Homo sapiens: one gene and its partners. The protein of the gene in region 2 interacts with the protein of the main gene of each other region in a pairwise test. Each region holds a gene or a part of one and is shown on either strand. Other genes may lie near its edges.

The links.
Region 1: the proteins of TBC1D1 (region 2) and CCDC185 interact in binary tests that used the Homo sapiens proteins (3 or more experiments, as listed by UniProt).
Region 3: the proteins of TBC1D1 (region 2) and CWF19L2 interact in binary tests that used the Homo sapiens proteins (3 or more experiments, as listed by UniProt).
Region 4: the proteins of TBC1D1 (region 2) and ZFP1 interact in binary tests that used the Homo sapiens proteins (3 or more experiments, as listed by UniProt).

What each region holds. Positions count from the first base shown.
Region 1 is NC_000001.11:223,389,221-223,395,973, reverse strand, and holds CCDC185 (coiled-coil domain-containing protein 185), read right to left. Parts: upstream 2,560-6,753; 5' UTR 2,499-2,559; coding exon 627-2,498; 3' UTR 509-626; downstream 1-508.
Region 2 is NC_000004.12:37,886,693-37,894,120, reverse strand, and holds the start of TBC1D1 (TBC1 domain family member 1), read right to left. Parts: upstream 3,038-7,428; 5' UTR 2,773-3,037; intron 1-2,772. UniProt on the Homo sapiens protein: May act as a GTPase-activating protein for Rab family protein(s). May play a role in the cell cycle and differentiation of various tissues.
Region 3 is NC_000011.10:107,325,833-107,328,836, forward strand, and holds the end of CWF19L2 (CWF19-like protein 2), read right to left. Parts: intron 1,222-3,004; coding exon 1,078-1,221; 3' UTR 528-1,077; downstream 1-527.
Region 4 is NC_000016.10:75,144,306-75,151,543, reverse strand, and holds the start of ZFP1 (zinc finger protein 1 homolog), read right to left. Parts: upstream 3,021-7,238; 5' UTR 2,901-3,020; exon of another isoform or gene 2,882-2,900; intron 2,644-2,881; exon of another isoform or gene 2,505-2,643; coding exon of another isoform or gene 2,277-2,504; intron 1-2,276. UniProt on the Homo sapiens protein: May be involved in transcriptional regulation.

The DNA of each region.
Region 1 (6,753 bases), on a different chromosome or scaffold from region 2:
ATAGCAAAGACTTGGAACCAACCCAAATGTCCAACAATGATAGACTGGATTAAGAAAATGTGGCACATATACACCATGGAATACTATGCAGCCATAAAAAATGATGAGTTCACGTCCTTTGTAGGGACATGGATGAAATTGGAAACCATCATTCTCAGTAAACTATCGCAAGAACAACAAACCAAACACCGCATATTCTCACTCATAGGTGGGAATTGAACAATGAGATCACATGGACACAGGAAGGGGAATATCACACTCTGGGGACTGTGGTGGGGAGGGGGGAGGGGGGAGGGATAGCATTGGGAGATATACCTAATGCTAGATGACGAGTTAGTGGGTGCAGCGCACCAGCATGGCACATGTATACATATGTAACTAACCTGTACAATGTGCACATGTACCCTAAAACTTAAAGTATAATTTAAAAAAACAAAAATTCCCAAAATTTTCTCTCCGACCCTCTAAACTATCCAAGTGAATCAATAAACCAGTTCATGAGAGGAAATTGCAGCTATTTTACATGCTTTTTTAAAATCAATGTTCAATTATAATCAGATTACAAAAGGAATCACATTGCCACATCTCCTTCTGGCTGCGCACTGTAAGCCAGGCGTCCTTGGTTCTCAGTAACCCCTGTTCTGCTGACAGGCACGGAGCTGGGCCTCTAGTACCATCTGATCAAGGGAGCTGTTGGGAGGCGCTCTCTCCTCTCTCCTGGAGGCCTGAGGGAGCTTCTGGAACTCCTGGAAGTTTGGGTCTTTCCCTTGGGAAATGTGCTGCACCCTCTGCTCCTTTTTCTTAATGGCCTCCTTGATGCCCTCAATGTGACACTTTTCCTCCTTCTCGGCTTTCAGTTTCAGGATGTGGTGGTTTTTCTCCCTCAGGTGGTTGAGCTCCCGGAGGTGCTGCACCTTGTCCCTAGTGGTCTTGTGCACGTGACTCCTGGCCTGTCGGATCTTCTCATCCGCCAGCTCCACCAGAATTCTTTTGCGCATCTTCCTCTGTTCCTCTGACTCCCCTGCGCGCCACCTGGCCTGCTGCAACTGCTCTTCCTCCTTCTGGGCCTTCTCCCTCAGCTCGCGTTGCCGCTCCTTCCTCAGGCCCTGGTGTATCTCCTGGGACCGCTGGAAACTTTGTTCCAGGGACAGCTGCCTAAGGAGCTCCTCAGCCTTGGCCTGGCAGTCCATGAGGACCTTCCGGGCCTGGTAATTGATGAGGGAGCTCAGGTTGGTGTCCTGGACCTTCTTCTGGCCCTCCACGGCATGTAGGTGCCTCTTGCGACAGGCTTCCACCAGCCTCCTCTGCAGCTGCAGGCTGTGCTGCTCCCGGAGGTTCCGTAGCATCTTCTCCTGCTCCCGCAGGCGCCGCACCTGGCACTGTTTTCGGTGCTCTGCCTGGGCGCGCGCCTTCTCCAGCTTCTCCTGGCGCGGGCTCTCCTGGTCCTCTGGTTGCTCCTTCCACCGGCTTTCCCCCGGGGGCACGTTCTTCCTCTGGCTGTCCCGCCGCAGGCCGCGCTGCTCAGGGCTCTGGAGGGTCTTGCGCTGCTCCTTCTCCTGCCACTGCTCCTGGCTCTGCCGCAGCAGCAGCCGGCGCTCCCGCTCCAGGGTCATCTGGACCTTCTGATCCGAGCGCTTCAGCTCCTCCCAGGCCTTAGCCGCCTGCTGCTGCAGCTCCCGTATCCTCTGGGCCTTCTTGAGACGGGTCAGCACCAGGGCCACAATCTGCTGGTCCTGGGAGGACACCACCACCTCTTCCAGCTTGCTCTTCAGGACCTGGGTGTGCGGGCTCCGCATCTCTTTGCTGGAGGCCAAGGGCTGGGAGTCCCGGCTGGCTAATGACTCAACCTGGTCGCTGCTGTCTCTCTTCTGGGCGCACACGCAGGCTGAGTGCCTCTTGAACTTTTGCGAGGGCACAGAAGACCGCTCCGAGGGAACTGAGGAAGGGGACCAGCGACCTAGATGTCTGCCGAGTGGCACTGCCCACTGGTCTCCACCCTGTGCCTTTTCTACCCTGAATGTGCCACTCAGGGGAGTGCCAGCTCCTCCGGGGCAAGGCGGGGGCGAGTCTCCCTGGGCCAGAGGGTAATGCGGGCAGGGCTGCGGCCGCTGGGGTGGCAGCTGGGTCTGCGGCTGCCAAGCCGGGCGGGGCTTGGTTCCTGTCTCTCCCCAGGCATCTTCCAGGCGCCTGCTGCGGGGCCGGTGCTTCCTGGAACGTTCCAGGGGCCTGCGGGCCACATCGCTCAGGCTTCGGCTGCCCCGCAGTGAATCTGAGCACCCGCGCCTGCGAGGCCGCGGGGTGAACGAACAGTGCGGGTGCAGCCAGCACGCCCCAGCTTCGCTCTCCGCACCCGGAGTCCCGGCCCGGGAGCACGCGGTGGAGTCGGCTCCGGACCTCTGCCCGCCCAGCCGCTGCGTGGACTCTCGTTCTCCGCCGGGCCGCGGGGGTTCCCAGAGATCCCGGTAGGGCGGCTGGGAGAAGTGGCTGAAGCCTGCCATCCCTCCCTCTGGGCACGCGCAGCGTCTGCCCAAGGGGCCTGAGACCTCCCGAGGACGCTGCAGACACCCGCCCTGCCCCCCGGTCCCGAGGTCCGGGTCGCCTGTGACGCTCGGGCCACTTCACAATGCGCCTGGCAGCTGGGTCCTCGCAGTCTTCAGACCTTGCCCGGCGCCGCCCACCCCAGCTTTGCTAGCACCCGGAGCACCTGGAATGGGAAGGACAGGAGGCTGGGGATGGGGGTGGTGGGGGTCGGGTGGGGGAGAGAGGGGTTGTATGTTGGAGGAGGGAATATGTAGGAAATCAGGGTGACATTTAAAGCTGAGGGTGCATAGTGTCCCCCACCAGTGTTTCAGGGAGAAATTTGAACTCGCATTTGCACACAAACAGCAGGATTTTAAGAGAGCCCAGGTGAAGGCGTCACCCTCAGAATGGAAGGGGTGGGGAGAAGGGCCGGGGTGCAGTCTCAGGGAGGAGGTACCCTTAGCTGCAGAATCACCGTCCTGCACGTGTGTACCTCTGCAATGTGGTCAAATAGAACGGCTGTGGACGCGACACCACCCATTTGCCTTTTAAGTTAGCAAGCCCAAAGTATGCTTTAATGTTTACTTTTTAAGATTTTTAGAAAAGGTAGAAGACGACTCTATTTCCTAATATGGTAATTACTGCTTTTGTCAAAATGTGAATGCTGCGTGCACATTTCTGCAATAGCATTAGTGAACACCATGTTGAAATCACATTTTTTTTTCCCTTTTCCTCCAATTTTGTGGGATTCTCGTTCCTTGTTGAGGCACCCTTGGCTAATGGGAAAAGCACTGGATCTGGTAGAGAAAAAGAATTTGAATCTCCTCTACCACTCTTCACTCATGGGCTCTTGGGCAAATTCCCTAAGTTTCCCTGACCTCCAGTTCCAGCAAGGTGGAATGGGAAGTGGGGCCTCATCATATGGGCATTGCAGGACTGTTGTGAGGGTCAGATGAAATTATGCATCCAGAGGTTGGCACCAGAATACATTCAATAAATATTATTTTGGTGCCATGCTAAGCGTCAGTTAAAAGTTTTAAGGGTTGGGCTGGGTGGTGGCTCATGCCTGTAATCCTAGCATGTTGGGAAGGCAAGGCAGGAGGATTCCTTGAGCCCAGGACTTAGACCAGTCTGGGCAACATAGAGAGATCCTGCTTCTATATAAAAATTTTAAAAATTAGCTGGACATGGTGGGTGCATTTGTAGTGCCAGCTACTCTGGAAGCTGAGGTAGAAGGATTGCTTGAGCCCAGGAATTTGAGGCTGCAGTGAGCCATGATTGTGTCACTGCACCCCAGCCTGGGCAAGAGTGAGACTTTGTCTCAAAAACAAAGTGTTAAGACTTAAAGTAATATATGAATTTACAAATATTTCTGCAGATTCCTAGCTTAAGAAAAGAATGAAATTAATGTAATCCTAAAATAGTTTAAGTAAAGGATAGAGTGCTAGAAAGGGGAGACTCCAAGCTCTGTCGTGTCCACATCATACTGTGGATCTTGGCTAAGTCATTTCTCTTCTCTGGGGTTGCTGTGGTCTGAAGGTTTGTGTTTCCCCCAAATTCATATGTTAAAATTCTAACCCTCAAGGTGATAGTATTAGGAGGTGATTAGGTCATATGGGTGGAGCCCTCATCAATGGGATTAGTGCCCTTATAAAAGGAGCCCCAGAGTAATCCCTCATCCCTTCTGTCACGCGAGGACACAGTGAAAAGATGGCCATCTCTGAACCAGGGAGAGGATCCTCACCAGACACCAAATCTGATGTCTTGATCTTGGACTTCTTAGCCTTCAAAATGGTGAGAAATAAATTTCATTCATTTATATGCCACCCAATCTGTGGTATTTTGTTAATAGCATCTGGAAGAGACTAAGGCAGGGTTGCAATGAGGAAACAGTTCTGGATAGCATTCTCCAAGTATGACCATTCCTTAAAGAAGAAAAATGAGTATTTACCCACACCAGTCCTCTTCATTCACGTCTCCTTGAAGCATCACAGCAACCCCAGCTAGGAAGGACCAATAGCCTTGATAATATTTTCCACTGGACAAATCTGGGACTTGGCCATATTAACTGATTTCCCCAGGGTCACTTGGTCAATGGCAGGAGTTTTGACTTCAGATTTACTTCTCTTTCCATGATAGCGTGCTGCCTGCCTCTCGGGGAATACACTTTAAATTGAGCCATGCTTTTAAGAGAATTATGATCTGATGTACAGCAGAGGGTCATGGACACCATGTCCTTGAAGCCACGTGGTAGCAGCCTTAACTACAGTGGAAGGAGCCACTCTGCCTGGTTAGGATCTCACCAGCATGTCTATAGCTGGGGATAAGAAGTTTTTCTACCCTAGATTTTATTGGCACCATTTGTATCCTTGTTAAATAAATTATTTTATGTGAATATAGTCCTTACTAGATGGTAATTTAAAAAGTAAACCAAATTTGAATGGAATCATTTAACTTTTGAAGTTAGGAAATTTTTTTCATGTATTGAGTTGTGCTGATAGCTGAGTGTCATATCTCTCTGTTGATGCTTTGTAAAACATTTTGCAGGGACAGGTCAATACCCAGGCTACTCCCATAGAGCAGTGTTATGTGGGTGAAAGTATACTCACCTGAAAGCCAGGAGACCTGCCACCAGCCAGTTCTGCTAGCAGCTGAGTCACCTGAGCAGTCATTTCACCTTTCCTCATCCCTGTAAAGTCTCTTTCAGTCCCAAATGCAGCTGGAGAAAGGGTTCAATCTAGTAAATGCTTCAGCCTTTGTTCTGTAAAGCAAAAATGAGTTAATCCATGAAAAATGCTTAGAGCAGTGTCTGTCTGCATGTGGTAGCTGCCTTATAAATATTAGCCATTAGAATCATCATTATCATTATGCCAAGAGCACTAAAACCATGGCAGCGTAGAGCTGAATTTAAAGACTTAGTTTGGGATGGAGTCAGAATGAGAACCCAAGGGCTCAGATTTCCAGTTCGGGGCTCTTTGGCCTCTTGCTTCCTCTGAAGGTTCTCAGGATTCCTCAGGGAATTGTGTATGGCTCACTCACCTCTGCTGACGATGGAATAAAGGACACAGTCTTCACTTCATAATGTCACACACATTTATTGATAATCTGGGCCAGGATTAGAAAGATGATATTGCTATGAGAAACAGGTCTGGGTAGCAGATGTTTTAAGTGGTTAAACAGTTCACCTTAACAGATTTCCCAGGGGAAGGTGGGGGTGTGCTCTGTCTGAATTGTTTATAAGAGAGGGCTCCATACAGGATGACACTGGAGTGAAACCTGGAAGGACAGTTAGGATTGTCCAGACAGGGATGAGCAGGAAGACACCAGGCCGAGGAAGCTGCATGGACTGCAGTGTGGAGCCTCGAATGCCTGGCACATTGGGGTTGTGTGATTTGTGTAGCAGGGGCATGGAGAGTGTGTGCAGTGAAGTGGCAGGTGATGAGGCCAGAAAGGTAGGCTGGGGCAGATTCTGGAGGGCCTGCTATGCCAAGCCAGGAAGCATAGACATCCTCCCGCTGGGCTGCAGCATCCCAGCTGTGTCCGGAAGAGTTCCGGGATTCCTCAGAGCTGTGTTGGGCCCAGAGGGGCAGGGCTGGAGGACTTTAGGGCAGGCTCTGAGGCCTCTGTCCTTGCTTTACCCAGGGCAGCTTAGACTTTATCTGTTTTATATCTTGGAGCTCCTGATAACACTTCACTGAAAAAATTTGGGGTTCTTCTGTTTCAATCCTTTTTTATGAGGGTTGAAATCCACTGTATAGATCACAGGGAGAAGTCAATAAAACTCTTGAAACCAGGAAAGAAACCCAATGGGATCTAGATTTTAGAAAGCTCACCCTGGCAGCAGCGTGGATGATCAATTAGTAGGCTGGTTCAGCAGTCTGGGTGGGCAATAAGGAAACGCAAACCAGGGCAATAGCCAGGGGACAGGAAGGAATGGATTGGAGGAACAGGTCAGAGTTTGAGGGTTCATGTCATGGGGATGCTTTGATATGGAGAAGGAGGGTTTCTAACCCAAGTGGCAGTGATAGCAGATCTCCAGTCTAGGTGATCTTGAAGACAACAATCTTGGAAATTTGGTAAAAGAAGTTATAATAACAAGTGACCCCTACACAGAACAGCAAATAGAATGTCTGGAGTAAACCACCAAAACTTGAAAGAGAAACCTCTTCCTTTGAGGGTCCTGGTGGGGAAGCTCCAAGCCTTAGCACATCGTCACAGAGCCAAGGAAATCTT
Region 2 (7,428 bases):
GCTACTTGGGAGGCTGAGGCAGGAGAATCACTTGAACCCAGGAGGCGGAGGTTGCAGTGAGCTGAGATCACGCCACTGCACTCCAGCCTGGGTGACACAGCAAGACTCCTTTCAAAAAAAAAAAAAAAAGTCAAAAACCTTGAAGCATGAAAACCTTCATGTCTTTCGTGAAGAATCTGGTCTAAAGATATTTTTTATTGGAATGTGGTGTTGGAAAGGAAGAAAAGTCAGTGAAGGAAATTGTAAGGTAACAGTTCTGACTGAAAACCTAAATCCTTCGTCATCACTACAGGGATACAAACCCCAACACTACTCTGCTGCTGAATGGACTCAGTGGCACGATCATGTTTCACTGCAACCTCCGCCTCCTGGCTTCAAGCGATTCTCCTGTCTCAGCCTCCCAAATAGCTGGGACTACAGGCACATGCCACCATGCCTGGCTAGTTTTTGTAGATCTATATTTTTGTAGAGACAGGGTTTTGCCATGCTGGCCAGGCTGGTCTCGAACTCCTGACCTCAAGTGATCCACCCGCCTTGGACTCCCAAAGTGCTGGGATTACAGGCATGAGCCACCATGCCTGGCCATGGACTCAGTCATTTTAATGAGCAGATTTTACTTCTCAAGTTTAATGACCAAGAGATGAAAACTGCTGAGAAATATATAAAATATTGAAACTAACGTGGTCATTAAACTTGAGAAGGGCAGCACGGTAGACTGGAAAAGGGCAAAACAAATGATCCTGAGGCACCCACACATATACAGGAAGTCCCCAAATGGGCCGTGATACATTTTCAGTCCTCTGGGAATCTGAAAAGAGCAAAAACTGGGGACCTACAGAGAAATGCTGTGGAGAGAGTAGGAAGGACTTCAGGGAGCTGCCATTCTGTCAGATCAAATTAAAAGCATGTTCAAAGACAGAATCCTCTTGAGCCCCTTGCTCTCCTCCCTACCATCTACTCTAGAAAGCTGGTGGCCAACAGAGCAGGCAGCTGTGGTGCCTGCTCCAGGCACCAAGACAACTGAAGATGCTGCTGTGAACACAGAAGAGGTAACAGCCATGCTGCTTGATTCAGGCTCCCCACTGCTTGCCAGGGTTACATCCTAGAAGATCCTAGAAGATCTGGACCACAAAAAAGCCACCCGCCCACATCTGGCTCTGCATAGGGGTACATCTCATTGTCATTGCAGCCTTCCTGGTCAAAGCTGTCTTCTAGGGAAGTGGGGGACAGGGATTATCACCAGCTGGATAATGAGGAAGAAGGGGCAAGCTCTGTTGCTTCAGAGTTGCACGTTTCCTCCTAATACCCACTAGTGTTTTGACAAACTGTGCCTTATGGGACACCAGGTCAACACTGCATGACTGCCACCCAACCAGAAATGCTGTCGTGGTGAAAAGGGGAAGCCCCAGCACTCTCAGTGGGGTAGATAACAATAGACTATGACAAGGAGACGCATTTGCAAAATTTTCCTTTGAAAACGTAATGTAATAATTTATAACTACACTAGTGATTTTTTTTCCTATTCTCCTGGTTTGCAAATGGCTGGACAAATCCACAGGAAAGAAATTATTTTAATTATCACCTGATGATTTTATTTCCTGCTTTGAACCACTTAGTCCCTTCCAGGTCTCCTTGCACTCAATAGTGTTAGAATGCTCTACTTGTGTTCACTTCAGAAAATGTCCCCTAAACTCTTTTTTTTTAAGAGATGGGATCTCACTTTGTCACCCAGGCTCCAGTGAGGTGGCACAGTCATAGCTCACTATGGCCTCGAACTCCTGGGCTCAAGTGATCCTCCTGCCTCAGCCTCCCAAGTAGCTGGGACTACAGGTGGGTGCCACCACCCCTAGCTCATTGAAAAAGTTTAGAAGTTTGAACTTGTACAGATAGCTGAGTTTCTTGGGTGTGACCTATTTAAACCAGGTCATTTTTAAATGCTCTTTCAAAGTCTGATTTTATTAATAAATGAAATCATCCCATCATAAGGGAAACAATGAGAAATCTATGAAGGGAAAACATATCCATTAATATGAGGCACCCTGAAAATTAAACTGTTTGGTGGAAGGAACAACCATCACTTTCAATTTCTTTTTAAAGCAACTTCCAGAGAATAAGCTATGTTAAGTAAAATCAAAACAGGAAAAGCCACATCTAGGTGGATTTCAAACGAAATGATACCTCTCTGAAAAAAAAGCAAAAACAAAACCTTAATGCCTGGTGAAGTTTGAGGGGGGTCTCATAATCACAGAGCCATCAGGAAGCGGCTAGAAACAATGAAGCAGGGTTTCAAAATGACTGGTACAGGATGTACCCATAGAAAGAAATGTTGCGCGCACTGGTGGAGCTGCCAAAGTTACTACTGCAAAGTACCCTGAACTTTTAAAGCGTGGCTTGGGGTCACTCTGACCACACTCTTTCCAATCTGGTCGCCTTGCAAACACGCTAGGATAATTGGCGGGAGGGGGGAGGGGAGAGATGCGCGGACCAGTGAGCTGGCGGGGGTTGGGGGAGAAGCCGGCGGAGCTCTCGGGTCGCTAGCAACATTAAGGTTTCGCTTTCGTCCAAGGGCGGCGGGGGTGGGGGGGTAAGGGGGGCAACGAGATGGCAATGAACTTCCTCCCCCGAGAGACCCTGGCCTCGCGTCCGTGGGCGGCCAGATGCCTTCCCCTCCGCGGCCAGGCGGGGCAGGGGCGTGCTGCGGGAGGGGGCGGCCGCGACGCCCCGAGAGGAGCCAGCAGGGTGGCCAGGACGAAGCCCCAGGAAGCGCCTTACCTGTGCCGCGGCGCGCTCAGAGCCCGGGGCCGGGCCGGGACGCGCAGGTGCTTGGGGGCATCCTGGGGACGGCCTGGGCGGGCGGGGAGTCCATCGCACCCGGCTGGCTGCGCTCTTCCCGCCGCGGGGGGACGGGGAGGGGGCTCCCCTCGGCTCGGCGCCCGCCTCTTCTCCACCCAGCTGAGGACACAGCAGGTCCCGCGGCGGCGGCAGCAACAGGCACCGGCGGACGGTGGCGGCACCAGGAGCAGCAGCCGAAGAGGAGGAGGAGGAGGAGGAGGAAGAAGAGGAGGAGAAGGAGGAGGTGTCTGCGCGCGGCTCTGGTTTCCTCCTCCCAGCCTGGGCGAGCGCGCTGGAGGCGAGGGGAAGACAGGAGCCGGGATCTCCCCACTCGGTCCCCGGGGAGCTGGGAGGGGGACTCGGTGTCCTCCTCCTCCCCACTGCGCCGTGTGACTGTGCCTGGGCAGCACGGCCCGGACGGGCGAGTCACACGCGAGCAACAGCTGCTGCACTGCGGGTCCGCCGCGGCCTCCCTCCCCTCCTTGCCACCCCCCGCCCCCAAGCCCGCGGGCCATCCTCAGCCAGTGTCTGTGGGGGGAATAGGGGGGAAGTACTCGGGCCGCCGCCCCATCCAGACCCCTGCGCAGGATCTGGGCACAGCGTTTCCCTGGGGAGCCGGGGGCGCGGGGCCCCGCGCGTGATGCAGGCCCTCGTGGCGGGATGTACAGTCGCACACCCTGTCCTTGGCGGCCTATTTATAGCAGGTGGCACTGCCCGCCGCTTGCTCGGCCTGAGTGGCTCTCAGCAGGTGGCACTGCCTGCCCGCTCTCCGCGCTCCCGAAGGCGCCTCGCCTCATCTGCACCCTCCTCTTCTCCCTCCGAAACAGACGTGGTGGAAACTGCACACAACATGGGGGGCGGGGGCCGGGGGCGACCAAGCCACCTTGCTCTCCCCCGCCTTACCCCTTCTCCCCGTCCTTGGAGGATGGCAAGAGGTGAACTGAGGCACGGATGCCCTATGGGGCGCTGGCATGCGAGGCAGGAAAATCAGGGACTCTGGGAAACAACGAAGGCGAAGTGCCCTCCCGGGATTAAACACCAGGAAACTCCATTTCTAACCAATTGCGGGAGTGACGCAGAGCCTGGATTAGGCGCTTTTTCCTGCCCCGCGAGCCCGGCACACGCGCAGGAACACACACCACACGCACACGCACACCCCAGTGTGCATGCCCCGATCAGGTCTGGGGACATTCCCAGCGGTGATGTAGAGTGCAAGGAAAGACGCGGAGATGTGAAAAGCGGGACAGAGCTCGCTCCCTAAGACTAGGGGATGGCAGTGTGCAAAAAACAGGCGAAGCTCCCAGATCCCTATCCCACCAGGCACAGAGGCGCAACGTCACTCGCAGGGTGGGGAGAGGGATCTGAGAAAAGTAAGAAGCATCACATCCTCTCCAGAGAAGAGTCCGCAGGGAGGGGAGAGCCGGGTGCTCGGAGGAGGCAGTTCCAGACCCCCAGGTGGCATCTTTCTGGATTTTTTTACTTAATGTAGCTGGGGGTGGACTTTAGGGAAGTGGCTGAGCGTTTGAGCTGTACGGTTGGACTTGAATCCAAATCCCAGCAGGTGTGGTTTAGGCAAGGTGCTGGACCTCTGGTCTTCATTGTCTTACCTGCTAAATGGGACCAATACACACCTTACAGGATCTTTGTGAGGACAAAGCAGGAAAGTGTAAGTAAAGTGGCCAGTGCAGTGACACAGACGTACATGGTCCTCAACTAAAAGCAGCAGCTATTATCAATATTACTGTGGCCCAGGAGGCAAATAGAGGGCCAGGTTTCCTCATCGTACCAAGAGCAGTGTCTTCCTTGAAGCCCACTGAGCTTCTTGTAGGCTTTTAGATTAGGGCTGTCTTATGGCATTCCCTGATTTCCCTGGATGCTTACATCCAGGGGAGGTATTTTTAAGTGGACCCAAGAGTTTTATTCACAGCTTGACTTAAAACTCTCACAATAGTGGTAGCTATTCTTTACGGAGGAGTTAGTCGATTTGGGGTATTGTGCTAGATACTGTCCTTATATATTGTTGCTAATTTGCTCAAAAACTCTGCAGGGCAAAGATTGTTAAATCCATTTGACTAAGGAGAAAAGTAAGAGGTTAGTGCCTACAGGGTTAGTGGGTGCTGGAATCTCCAAGATCCAAAGCCCTTTATAATATACTTGCTCTCTGGCCACTGTGTAGCCCTCAGCTCATTCTTTGTCATTGAGTAGTTATTTGTGTGCATAGCCTCAACTCTTTTTTAAGAAATATACAGTCATAAATACTGTAATGAGTAGAATGTTAACTGGGTTATGGAAATTATTCTTTAGGTTACAAGACCAGGTAAACCAGTTAAACCATATTGTTATCACTTGGGTCATATCCCAAATTATTTCATGTTTTTACCTTCAACTCTGTTGTAGAACTCTCTCTCCCTGTCTGCAGTGACCTGCTGCACACATTTACCTCCAGAGTGCTAGGAGGTCGAGAAAGGTACACTAGCATTCATTTCATTGACACTGTAAACTGCTTTTTGTATGTAACCCACCAGAGGATGGTTGAAACTGTTACCTAACAACCCTGCTTGCCAGGCCCTGCTCCTGGGAAAAGGGGTCAGGCCAAGGGGAACAGAGATAATTTGCTGGGCTCTGCTTACAGAACATCCTGGCTAGAGCCCCCTCCCATCCTGCCACTCCACTACCTTTTCTTTCCCTCACTTGCTCACCTCCTCTACCCTCTCTTCACCCTTACCCCTAGTCCCAGAGTACAGGAAGGCTTAAGTACAGGTAGGCAGCCAGGCGGGGTGCCTAACCAGAATACAGATGTAGGAAGTCGATGGGTGGGGCCCAGATGCAGGCCCAGGCCTCATATCTCTCAAAGCATTGACATCCAGCAAGTTCCAGCTCAGAGATTTATAATTTAGTGGCAAATGACCATTTGCCTTGACCCTTACCTAGGTTAGGGAGAGGTCATGGCCTTGTGAGAAGCAGCAATTTCTGCATCACTTTTCCAGCTCCCAGGACAGCTAGCACCCTAAGAATGATGAGGAGGGATTTTACCATACTTTCAACTTCTGGGAAACAGAACTCCCTCTATAGTATGCAATAAGGATTGTTGAAATTCTTTTTAAAATCTATACAGCATTATCTTAGAAATTAGGGGACAGCTTGCTATCAATCTATTTGGCCTTAGGTTTTCTAGCAGTTGTAGAACAAATAGTAAAGGGGACTTTGAAGCAGATGGTGATACCTGGTATGGCAGGATGAAGACTGTCAAATGTGGTTGGGGAGATCCATACTGGCCCAGTGCAGAGTGCAGAAGTAAGAGCTCACCACTCAGCTCTTACCTGCAGGTGCCATTGCTCTAGGAGGGAAGTAGCTCCTTCCCCTTGATATGTGGCCACGTGACTCCCAGGAGAGCTGGTACACACCATGGTAGAAGCGTGGGCCAATGGGGCCTTGGTGATGGCAACAGAGAGCTCCCTCAAGGCCCAGGAAGGTGTTCTGTTGGTCCCTCTTTAAGTCACCGATAACAAAAGCAAGCAGAGAATAGGGCCAAATGCTCCAATGATTCTGCTTCAGCTTCTGATTCTTCTGACGGAGTATGACCCAGGAACACAAGGAGTGTGGAGCTCTTCACCACCATGGGCATTTAGCTGACATCAGCTATGGACCCATTGGCTCAGCGAGTGAAAACCCTGATGCGAAGGCACCGACCATCATGGCTGCTGCACTTTTCCTGTCTGGACAACTTCCGCACCTCCAGCTCTTCCCAAAATCCTGCCATGGATCATTCTTTTAGGGCTTCTCCCATAGACTCTTTCCTAATTTAGCTATTTGCAGCATAATTAGTTATTCATTGCCAAAAGCCAGGAACATTAATATCAGCTTTAAGATGGCTGCAGAGCTCTAGAAAATTGTGAACCATCGATGCTATTAAATCACATGAAAAGCTCAGAGCCTGAAAGAAAACAGAGGCCACTTTACTTTTAAAAAGTTAAGGGAACCATGGGAACCATATATACATCTAGAATTAAAATCTTTCGTTGATGTAGAAAGAAGACCTTTAACAAAATTAATCATCATTAAATCCATCAGTTAGGTATTTAAATGCTCATATTAGTTAGGAATCCAAACTATTGCTATTATATATTTTTACTTAAATTCAAAATGTGCATAATAAGGTAGTGGGTCCATTTCCAAAAAATGGCATCAATAAAGGCAAAAAATAAGACTATACTGGCTAGAACCCTAGGATAGTAAGGTGGTTCACTGGGTATGCTTGTTCCCATTGATTGATAGTGACTTTCTGGAGCCCTGAGTGGACGAGGCTTGTAAGGCAAGTCCATGCTCAGTGGGAAAGGGTGCAAGATTGAGAAGCAGCACCTGCCTCAAGCATGGGAGGAGGCAGCATTGCAACACCAGCGCCAGGTAATTTGCCAACCCTGTCAATCCAAGGCATAACAGTTAGATCTAAAGAGTTTGTGAAGGCTGGGGTGGTGGCTTATCCTATAATCCCAGCACTTTGGGAGGTTGAGGTGGGCTGATCACTTGAGCCCAGGAGTTGGAGATGAGCCTAGGCAACATGACAAAACCTCTATAAAAAAATACAAAAAAAAAAAA
Region 3 (3,004 bases), on a different chromosome or scaffold from region 2:
AACAATAATTTCCATTAAGAAAAAGAAAAGTAGGAGCACTCAAAACATAAAAACCCTATACTTACAAAATATGACTATGGTGTGAGTTGAGAACAAATAAAAATTACGTTCCTTGGATCAAGTAAGGGACAACAGAATGTCCCATACTCTCATCCAGGCATGGTGGCTCATACCTGCAATCCCAGCACTTTGGGAAGCTGAAACAGGAGGATAGCTTGAGACTAGGAGTTCAAGGCTACAGTGAACTATGATTGGGCCACTGCACTCCAGCCTGGGTGACAAAGCCAGACTCTGTCTTAATAAATAAAAACAAAACAAAAAGATAAATAAATAAAAACTCTCATTACTTAAGATTTTACGACAATCAGTACAACTCAAAACCAATGATTTGGCTATAAATTTTAACTTTCATGCAAACCCCAAACAACCCTAAAATATGTTATTTGGAAGAATTACTTTTAGAACCACCAAAATTCAAAGATACTATTTAAAAATCCAGAAATAAAAACAAATTTGAATCATACAAATTTTCAGTATCATTTAATTCTTTAATACTTTGGGGACATTTCCTTTTCCTTTAACAAAAAGAATAGAAGTGATACTATATACTGCTAGTAGAAAATTAAGAGCTTTTCTATAAAATCCTATGAAATTAAAATTAAATCGTCTTATTTTTAAAAATGCAAAAGAAGCCAGACAGTAGACTTAACAACCATGAAGCAGACCCACTTCCCTCTGAACCAAGGATTTCCTATGCTTTTTAGATATCCCTTCAGAAAAGGCCTTCTCTAAATTAACTGAACAATTCGGAATACCAAGAAGTAGGTAGAGAGCAGGAATGTGAGCAGATCATCGAATATATGTTTTTACTCCATGGTGACTAAAATGAAGTCCATAGATAGGAGCAGGTGAAGAAGAAAACAACACAATCTCCTGATGTACAGTTGTCACTGACCCAGAGCAGTCTGCTGCTGTGACTCTCTCTGCCTGTGACCTGAGGGTCAGTTGCTTCATTAGATGCAATGGAAATAAAACTGAACGGGATCTGAAGAAAAATTTTAAAATGGAAGGTACACCTCAATAGTTTTTACTTTTGGTGAAGTCATATGGTTTCCACCACTGAGCAAACTGCAGTGCTTTTTTCCTCTGATCCTCAAAGCTTTCTCGGATGCCTTTCCTCCAAAGTCTTGGTTCTATATCCAGCATCCCACCTATGATTTCCTTTTAAAGAAAGAGAAAAGCACAAACACAAGCATGTATAAATAATGAAAACAGAAATGAAACTATTTCTGTTTATTCTGCTATAAAATATAACAAGTTCTTCTCCATGACAATGTTCAAGCATAAATACTAGTTGAAGTTAAAAAAATATGTTTTCAGTTAATTCTAACTAGGCAAACCGTGTGATTCTAAGAGTCCAAGTTAGCTGCATCTCCTATCAAGCAATTTGTCCATTTTGTTGCTTATTAGCACATCTACTAGATGGTAACAAAGGGGAGGGAAAACAAGTGAAATTTAATTAATATGATCTCTATTAGAGGCTCCCGTAAACAATTTTGCAAAAATGTTAATCAACTTCTAGCAATTATTAACTTTACTGCTCAACTGCAGTTGAATCCCAAGCTAATGTTCTCTCTCTGCTACCAAGTATATTTATAAATTAGTTTCTTCCACTATTAGCAGAAATCTTTTTTCATGAAACAAAATCCTATTGTAATACTAGTTTAAGTAAACCTATTGATAGAATTAAAAATTATATATCACTTTCATTTAAAAAATCACATTCTCAAGTCCCATAATAAATGGCTTTTTGGTTATCTGATTATTATTCTTGATTTCCTTCATGATCCTCTTCCTGTGCTGTTAGCTATAGAAATAAATCAAATTTAGGCATGTGAGTATCCATGAACAGAAAGACATGGGGGAGCCTCCTAATGCTTAAATGCTTAGAGGGAGGGCAGTATGGTAACAAAGCAAAAAACAAAAAACAAAACAACAACAACAAAAAACAGACTAAGGATCAAATTCTGCATAGTCGGTCTAGCTCCACCAGACTGTGTGGTGAGATCCTGCACAAACCACATAATCTTTCAGATGCAGGTTCTTCATCTTACTTAGGGACCTACTATGCAGAAGCAAATGCCGTATGTTGTAGGGGATACAGAGATTGTGGGGTGAAGACACACAGTTGTCTTCAGACAGAATAGAATCTGGAGCTGTGGTGGGAGGAATAATAATCCAGCTATGCAGCAGACTGTCTCATAAAGTAGAAGGTAAGTGTCAAAGCAGACCATTTGTGGAGACTCAAAAAAAAAAAAAAAAAAACAATCTATTTGTTGGCCAGACCAGGAGATGCTTCATGGAAAAGGGAATCTCCTGTCATCAGGGAAGGGAAATAAAGGGGTCAACAGAGATAGTAGAAAAGAGAAATAGGGCAAATTGAGATTTAGTTCAAGAGTTTCTCAGCATCGGTCCAAATAAGCAATGTAGTTTAAGAAAGCCTAGCTTATAAAAGTTTACCTAAAATTGTCTATAAAATACCAAGTTTTGTCTTACATCTACCATATAAGCTTGACTCTTGTTCTGTTATCAAAGCAGCTGTTAATGGAAAGACTATCCCCATAATCTCTTCTTGCTCTCTGAACAACTGCTTCAGCAGCAGACTGCAGGGAGGTCTTGAGCCCACAGGCTATTTCTTAAAAAGCAAATTTTGAGGAAAATGGCTCAGTGACGCAATGCTGACAGAGAAAATTTACTTTTAACTCCAAAACTGAATCATATAAACCAGAATGCATGAATAATATGTGAAGAAAGGGCAATCTCCCAGTTTAATATATACAACTTTTTAAAAATGGATATTTTACTTCCTTTTTTCTAGGACCAAATTTTTGTTTTGTTTTGTTTTTCTGTTTTTGTTTTTAATAAATCCAGCCATAGAGCTTTTGGTTATAAAGCTCTACTGTATAACAACAGGATTTTTCAGAACAGTGAAAACACATTTCTT
Region 4 (7,238 bases), on a different chromosome or scaffold from region 2:
ACTTTAGGGTAACAACCAAAAACTCTGTTAAATTTTTACAAATATACAATAAGACAACAGTGGAGATAAAATGTAATTATAAAAAAGACCCACTTAAGACAAAAGTAGACAGAAAAAAAGGTAAACAGAAACAAAGACCAAATAAGAAAAACAGAAAAAAACCAGCAAGATGGTAGACTTTAACACAACTATATCAATAATTGGCATAAACACACCAATTAAATAACAGAGGTCAAATTATATAAAAAAAGTAAGACCAAACCATGTGCTGTCTATAAGCAGTTTGTTTAAAATATAAAAACATAGCTACATTCAAAGTAAAAGGATGATCAGTTGTAGGAGTCAGGAAATTAAAAAAAAAAAAGATAAAAGAATGGAAAAAGAGGGTCAGGCACAGTAGCTCATGCCTGTAAACCCAGCACTTTGGGAGGCAAAGGTGGGTGGACTGCTTGAGCCCAGGGGTTTGAGACCAGCCTGGGCAACATGGCAAAACCTCGTCTCTACAAAAAATACAGAAAATTAGCTGAGTGTGGTGGCTCACACCTTGAGTCCTAGCTACTCCGGAGGCTGAGGCAAAAGGATTAGGGCGCACACCTGCAGTCCTAGCTACTCGGGAGGCTGAGGCAAAAGGTTTGAGGTTGCAGACAGCTGTGACTGAACCACTGCACTCCAGCTTGGGCAACAGAGACAGACCCTGTCTCAATCAATCAATCAATCAAGGAAGATTCTACGATCAACAGCACAATATTTATTCAAATACACACGAAACAGTTACCCAGAGAGATCATCATATCCTCGACCTTAAAACAAACTACAACAGGCCTGGTGCAGTGGCTCACGCCTGTAAAGCACTTTGGGAGGCCAAGGTCAGCGGATCACTTGAGACCAGGAGTCTACTAAAACAAAATGAAACAAAAATACAATACAAAAACAAACCACAACAAATTTAAAATAATTGAAATTCGTAACACAGTATTCTGACCAAATCAGAATTAAACTATAAATCAATAATATAAAAAGATCTGGGCCGGGTGCGATGGCTCACGCCTGTGATCCCAGCACTTTGCAAGGCCGAGGCAGGTGGATCACCAGGTCAGGAGATAGAGACCATCCTGGCTAACACGGTGAAACCCCGTCTCTACTAAAAATACAAAAAAAAATAAAAAAATTAGCCAGGTGTAGTGGCGGGCGCCTGTAGTCCCAGCTACTCTGGAGGCTGAGGCAGGAGAATGGTGTGAACCTGGTAGGCGGAGCTTGCAGTGAGCCGAGATCTCGCTACTGCACTCCAGACTGGGCAACAGAGCGAGACTCTGTCTCAAAAAAAAAAAAAAAAAGATCTGGAAAATCTCCAAAAACTTGGAAATTATGCAATACAATCTAAATAAATAAGGGTAAAAAATGAAGTCACAAGGGAAGTTAAAAAAATTTGAATTGAATGGTAATGAAAACACAATAAAAAGGCTGGGTGCAGTGGTTCATGCCTGTAATCCCAGCACTTTGGGAAGCCAAGGCGGGAGAATCACTTGAGGTCAAGAGTTCTAGAGCAGCCGGGCCAACATGGTGAAACCCCGTCTCTACTAAAAATACAAAAATCAGCCAGGTGTAGTGGCGGGTGCCTGTAATCCCAGCCAGGAGGACTGCTTGAACCCGGGAGGCAGAGGTTTCAGTGAGCTGAGTGCCACTGCACTCCAGCCTGGGTGACAGAGTGAGACTCAGTCTCAAAAACAACAACAACAGAAAAGAAAATACAAGATATAAAAATTTGAGTGATGTAGTTAAAGTAGTATTTAGAGGAACAGTTACATCAATAAATTGTGTCTGGCCGGACGCGGTGGCTCACGCCTGTAATCCCAGCTACTCGGGAGGCTGAGGCAGAGCACTACTTTAACCCAGGAGGCGGAGGTTGCAGTGAGCCGAGATCAAGCCACTGCACTCCAGCCTGGACGACAGAGCGAGACTCCGTCTCAAAAAAAAAAAAAAAAAAAAGAAAGTAAAGAAAAGAAACGGTACAATACAAAAATATAGTATTACAATCACATAGGACCACCATTTTACATGAGGTCCCTCGTTGACAGAAACACTGTTACGCAGAGCGTGACTGCACCAGAATCATGGGAAAACTTTCGTATTTCAAAGTAGTGAAGAATTTTGGGTGCCCCAAACGGAAAGAACAGTAAATTCCACCCGAGAGAAATTTAAAACGTCAAAACGTATACATGGCAAAATCTACCAGCGAGTAAAATCAAAAGATAAATGAAAAAATATCTGCTGCTCACATAAAGTACCACCGGGTTGTGAGACCTTAGGGAAATCACTTTCCCCTTCTGAACCTCCCGTGTTCCTGGGATAGCGACGGAGATGATAACGCTGGAAGTCACGGGGTGGATGCGAGGATCAGGGGAACACCTCACTGAAGACCCTCTGACAAAGGGATCACGGTTCTCCTTCACCACCGGCAACTGACCAGGCTCCAGTCCTTCCTCCACCCACGAGGCACCGGGCATCGGGGCGTGGCCAGGTGTGTCAGGCCACGCCCCCACCACGCCCCGGCGGGGCCTCGTCCCGCGCGCGCGCGCCCGCCGGGGCTCCAGAACTCGCTCCCGCGCGGCCCGAGCCCTTCGCCGCCCGTCTGAGGCGCATCTCCTGACAAAGAGAAGAAGGCGAAGCCTCATAGCCGCCCTTCCCTCCGCCGTCCCCGCCCCCGCACGTTCGGCCAGGCGTGCCCCGCCGGCCCCGTTCAGAGGCGAGCGCCGGGCAACCCCGGACGCCGCCCTGAGGGTCACTGCCGCCTACGAGTAGCCGAAGTTTGGGCTCCCACCCTGCGCGGGCACGAGCCCATCCCTCATCTCCTTCCCCTCGGCCCCAGGCCGCGCGGAGCTACCTGGAAGCCCCTCTCGTACCTGGAGGGGCGCAGCCTCCACTCGTGGCCCAGTGCCACAGCGGGTCACGGCGCAGGGCGGCGAAGACGCGCGGAGACGGGGGCTCTGTCACCCACTCGCCGCTGGTGGTGGGGGAAGGGCGGCCACCGGCGCGCTCGCAGCACTGCACATGCGCAGAAACAGGGGCGCGGGCCGTTCCCAGGGTCCTCGGAGGGGTGGACCATCCACGTTCGGGACTACATTTCCCACAAGCCTCCGGGGCCGCGGCTTTAGGGACTCTCAGGAAAGTCTTCGCCTTGTTAGGCGGTCTGATGAGCCGACCAAAATAATCTCCTTAGCCTGCACTGTTTTCTTTTTTCCCAGAGTGGGTCGTGAACTACAATTCACCACCTCCCCCTTAAATACAACAACTTGGCTTTTAAACATTACACAAATAATCTATAACTGTATTTAATTAGAATATATGTACAAAATAAAGTATCCATAATCTCACTTTCTAAAGATTAACTGCGTATAACATTAAGTTCGCACTTTGATTTTTTTGTTGTTGTTACAAAACTGGCCATAAAGGTATCATGTGCTGCAACTAGCTTTTTTCCCTTTTTTCCCAGGCCACTTTGTTGAGGTATATATATTTGTTGAGATCTATATATTTAAGATGTACAACTTGATATCTACATTTGTGAAATATTCACCATAATCAAGCTAATTAACATGTGCATCACCTCACATAGTTATTTGTCTGATGAGAACACTTAAGATCTATCTTCTTAGCAAATTTCAAGTACACAATATTGTCAACTATCGTCACATAGCTGTGCATCTCCCCAGAACTACTCATCTTGCATAACTGAGACTTTGTACCCCTTGACCACCATCTTCCCATTTCCCTTCACCCTCAGTTCCTTTCATCCTTTAGAACAGTTTTAGGTTCACAGCAAAATTTGAGCAGAAAATACATTGAATTCCCATATAACCCATGTCCCCCCAGCACACACAACCTCCCCAAAGTTGATATCCCACACCAGAACAGTGTATTTGTTACAATTGGTGAACCTACAGTTAAATATCAGCACCTGGCCAGGCTCAGTGGCTCACACCTGTAATCCTAGCACTTTGGGAGCCTGAGGCAAGCAGATTGCTTGAGCCGAGGAATTTGAAACCAGCCTGGCCAAAATGGTGAAACCTCATCTCTTAAAAAAAAAAAAAAAATACAAAAATTAGCCGGGCATGGTGGCACGCACCTGTAGTCCCAGCTACTCGGGAGGCTGAGGTGGGAGGATCACTTGAGCCTGGGAGGCTGAGGTTTCAGTGAGCCAAGATTGTGCCACTGCACTCCAGCTTGGGTGACCCTGTCTCAAAAAGTATAAATTAAAAAACAAAATCATTGGCACCCAAAGTCCATAGCTTACATTAGTGTTCACTTGATGTTGTACATTCTATGGGTCTTGACAAATGCCTGTAACCATTACAGTATCGTACAGAATAGTTTCACTGCCCCCCAAAAAATCATCTGTGCTCCATTTATTCATCCATCCCACAACCCCTGGAAATCTCTGATATTTTTACTGTCTCCATAGTTTTGCCTTTTGCAGGTTGTCATATAGGTGGAATCATACATATGTTGCTTTTTCAGATTGGCTTCTTTCATTTAGTAATATACATTTAAGTTTCCCTCATGTTTCCCTCAAGTTACCCTGGCTTTTTTTTTTTTTTTTTTTTTTTGACACAGGGTCTCACTCTGTCACCCAGGTTGGAGTGCAGTGGTGCGATCATGGCTCACTGCAGCCTCCACTTCCTGGGCTCAAGTGACCCTCCCAGTTCAGCCTCCCAAGTAGCTAAAACTACAGGCATACACAGCCATGCCTGGGTAATTTTTTGTATTTTTTGTAGAGATGGCATTTTGCCATGTTGCCCAGGCTCGTCTCAAACTCCTGGGATCAAGAAATCCTCCTGCCTTGGCCTCCCAAAGTGCGGGGATTATAGGGATGAGCCACTGTGCCCAGCCTCAGTTCGTTTTAGTGCTGCATAATATTCTACTGTCTGCATGTACCAGTGTTTTAAATCCATTCACCTACTGAAGATACATTGGTTGCTTCTAAGTTTTGGCAACTATGAATAAAGCTGCTCTAAACATCTGTGTTCAGGTTTTGTGAGGATATAAGTTTCCAGTTCATTTGGGTAAATCGTATGGTTGCGGCCGGGTGCAGTGGCTCACGCCTGTAATCCCAGCACTTTGGGAGGCCGAGGCGGGCGGATCACGAGGTCAGGAGATCGAGACCATCCTGGCTAACACAGCGAAACCCTGTCTCTAATAAAAATACAAAAATAAAAATTAGCCGGGCGTGGTGGCGGGCACCTGTAGCCTCGGCTACTTGGGAGGCTGAGCCAGGAGAATGGCGTGAACCTGGGAGGCGGAGCTTGCAGTGAGCCGAGATTGCACCAATGAACTCCAGCCTGGGCGACAGAGCGAGACCCCGTCTCCAAAAAAAAAAAAAAAAATTAGCATGGTTGCTGGATTGTGTGGTAACAGTATGTTAATGAGACAGGAGAGTTCCCTGGACCCCTTCGCGGGACTTGTCGTGGCTAGCTTACTCAGCCACTGTGCTAAAACCCCTTATGGGAGGGGGAGCACAGAGGCAAGTGGGTGCCAGGGCCAGGGTGAGCACCTTTGGGCTCTGGCCCCATGGTAGCATCTAGGGGTGTGTTACAATTAATGCTCTTCTAGCAGTTGCCATCCATGGACAGCTAAGCGTTAACCAGCTCAGTGGAGAGTGAGGGTGACAGCCTTTTACACCCTGCCCTCTTAATACCCAGGTCCTTGTCCAGCATCCAGAAAGGATCAGGTCACATGGACTTGAAGAATGGTAAATGCAGAGGTTTTATTGAGTGAGGGAGGTGGCTCTCAGCAGGATGGGGAGCTGGAAAGGGGATGGCGTGGGAAGATAATCGTCCCCTGGAGTTCTGCTGTCCCTGGCCAAATTCCTCTCTGACCATCCAGCTACCTCTTCAATGCTCAATTGCTTCTTCTCTTTTCTCCTTCTCCACCACCTTGCTCTGCAGCTCTGCCCCTCTGCCCCTCTGCTGCTCTTCTGTTTGTGGAGCCTGGGATTTGGGGTTCTTATGGGCACAGGATAGAGAGCAGGGTGGGCCACAATGGTCTTGGAAAAGGCAACGTACAGGCGTGAAAACAGGAATGCCTGTTCTCATTTAGGGCCATGGGTCCAAGCTTGAGGGTAAGAACCCTCACCAGGAATCCCGCCCTCCTGCCTCCTGTCCATATCATTAGTTTTGTAAGAGACTGCCAACACTGTCTTCCAAAGTGGCTGCATCATTTTGCACCCACCAACAATGAATAAGAATTCCTGTTGCTCCAATTTCTCACCAGCATTTGTTGTCAGTGTCTTGAATTTTGGCCATTCTAATAGGTATGTAGTGGTAGCAGCTTGCTTTTAATTAAAACAATATCCTCAAACAGGTTCATAGAAAGGTGTTTACACCAATGTTCATAGCAGCATTATTCACAATATCCAAAGGTGGAGACAATCCAAGTGTCCATTAGCTGATGAATGGATACAGTGGAATATTATTCAGCCATATCAAAGAATGACGTTCTGGTACACGCTACAACGTGATTAAAACTTGAAAATACACTAAGTGAAATAAGCCAAGCTGGAGGTAGTGGCATGTGCCTGTGGCCCCAGCTACTCAGGAGGCCGAGGCAGGAAGATCACTTGACCCAGGAGTTCGAGGCTGCAGTGACCTATGATTGCACGACTGCACTCCAGCCTGGGTAGTAGAATGAGACTCTGTTTCTTAAAAGAAAAGAAAAGAAAAAAAGAAAGAAGGCAGACACAAAAGGACAAATACTGTATGATTCCATTTATATGACGTACCTAGGATAGGCAAATTTATAAAGACAGAAAGTAAAACAGAGTTACCAGGGACTGGAATAAAAAGGGATGGGGAGTTAGTGCTTAAACGGTATAGCGTTTCTGTTTGGGATAATGAGAAAGTTCTGGAAGGAGAAAGTGGTGATGGATATACAACATTGTGATGTGAGTGTACACATCAAATTTTTCTGAAGATCTTATTATACCAACATTTAAAAATTATAAATTACCATAACCTATAATCTTATGGAAAGATGTATATACAAGAATGTTCCTCACATTGCCATTTATATTTGCAAAACCTTGGGAAGGATCTAAAAATCTTTTAGTAGGTAAACGTAAAATAAATTGTGGTGATATGTAAGGAGAATTTGGGGAAACACTAAAAAGGATAATGTGTATTACCCACGTGGGGGTTATTTCATTGAGAAATGAAATAATACTGATCACACAAGAATATGTGCAG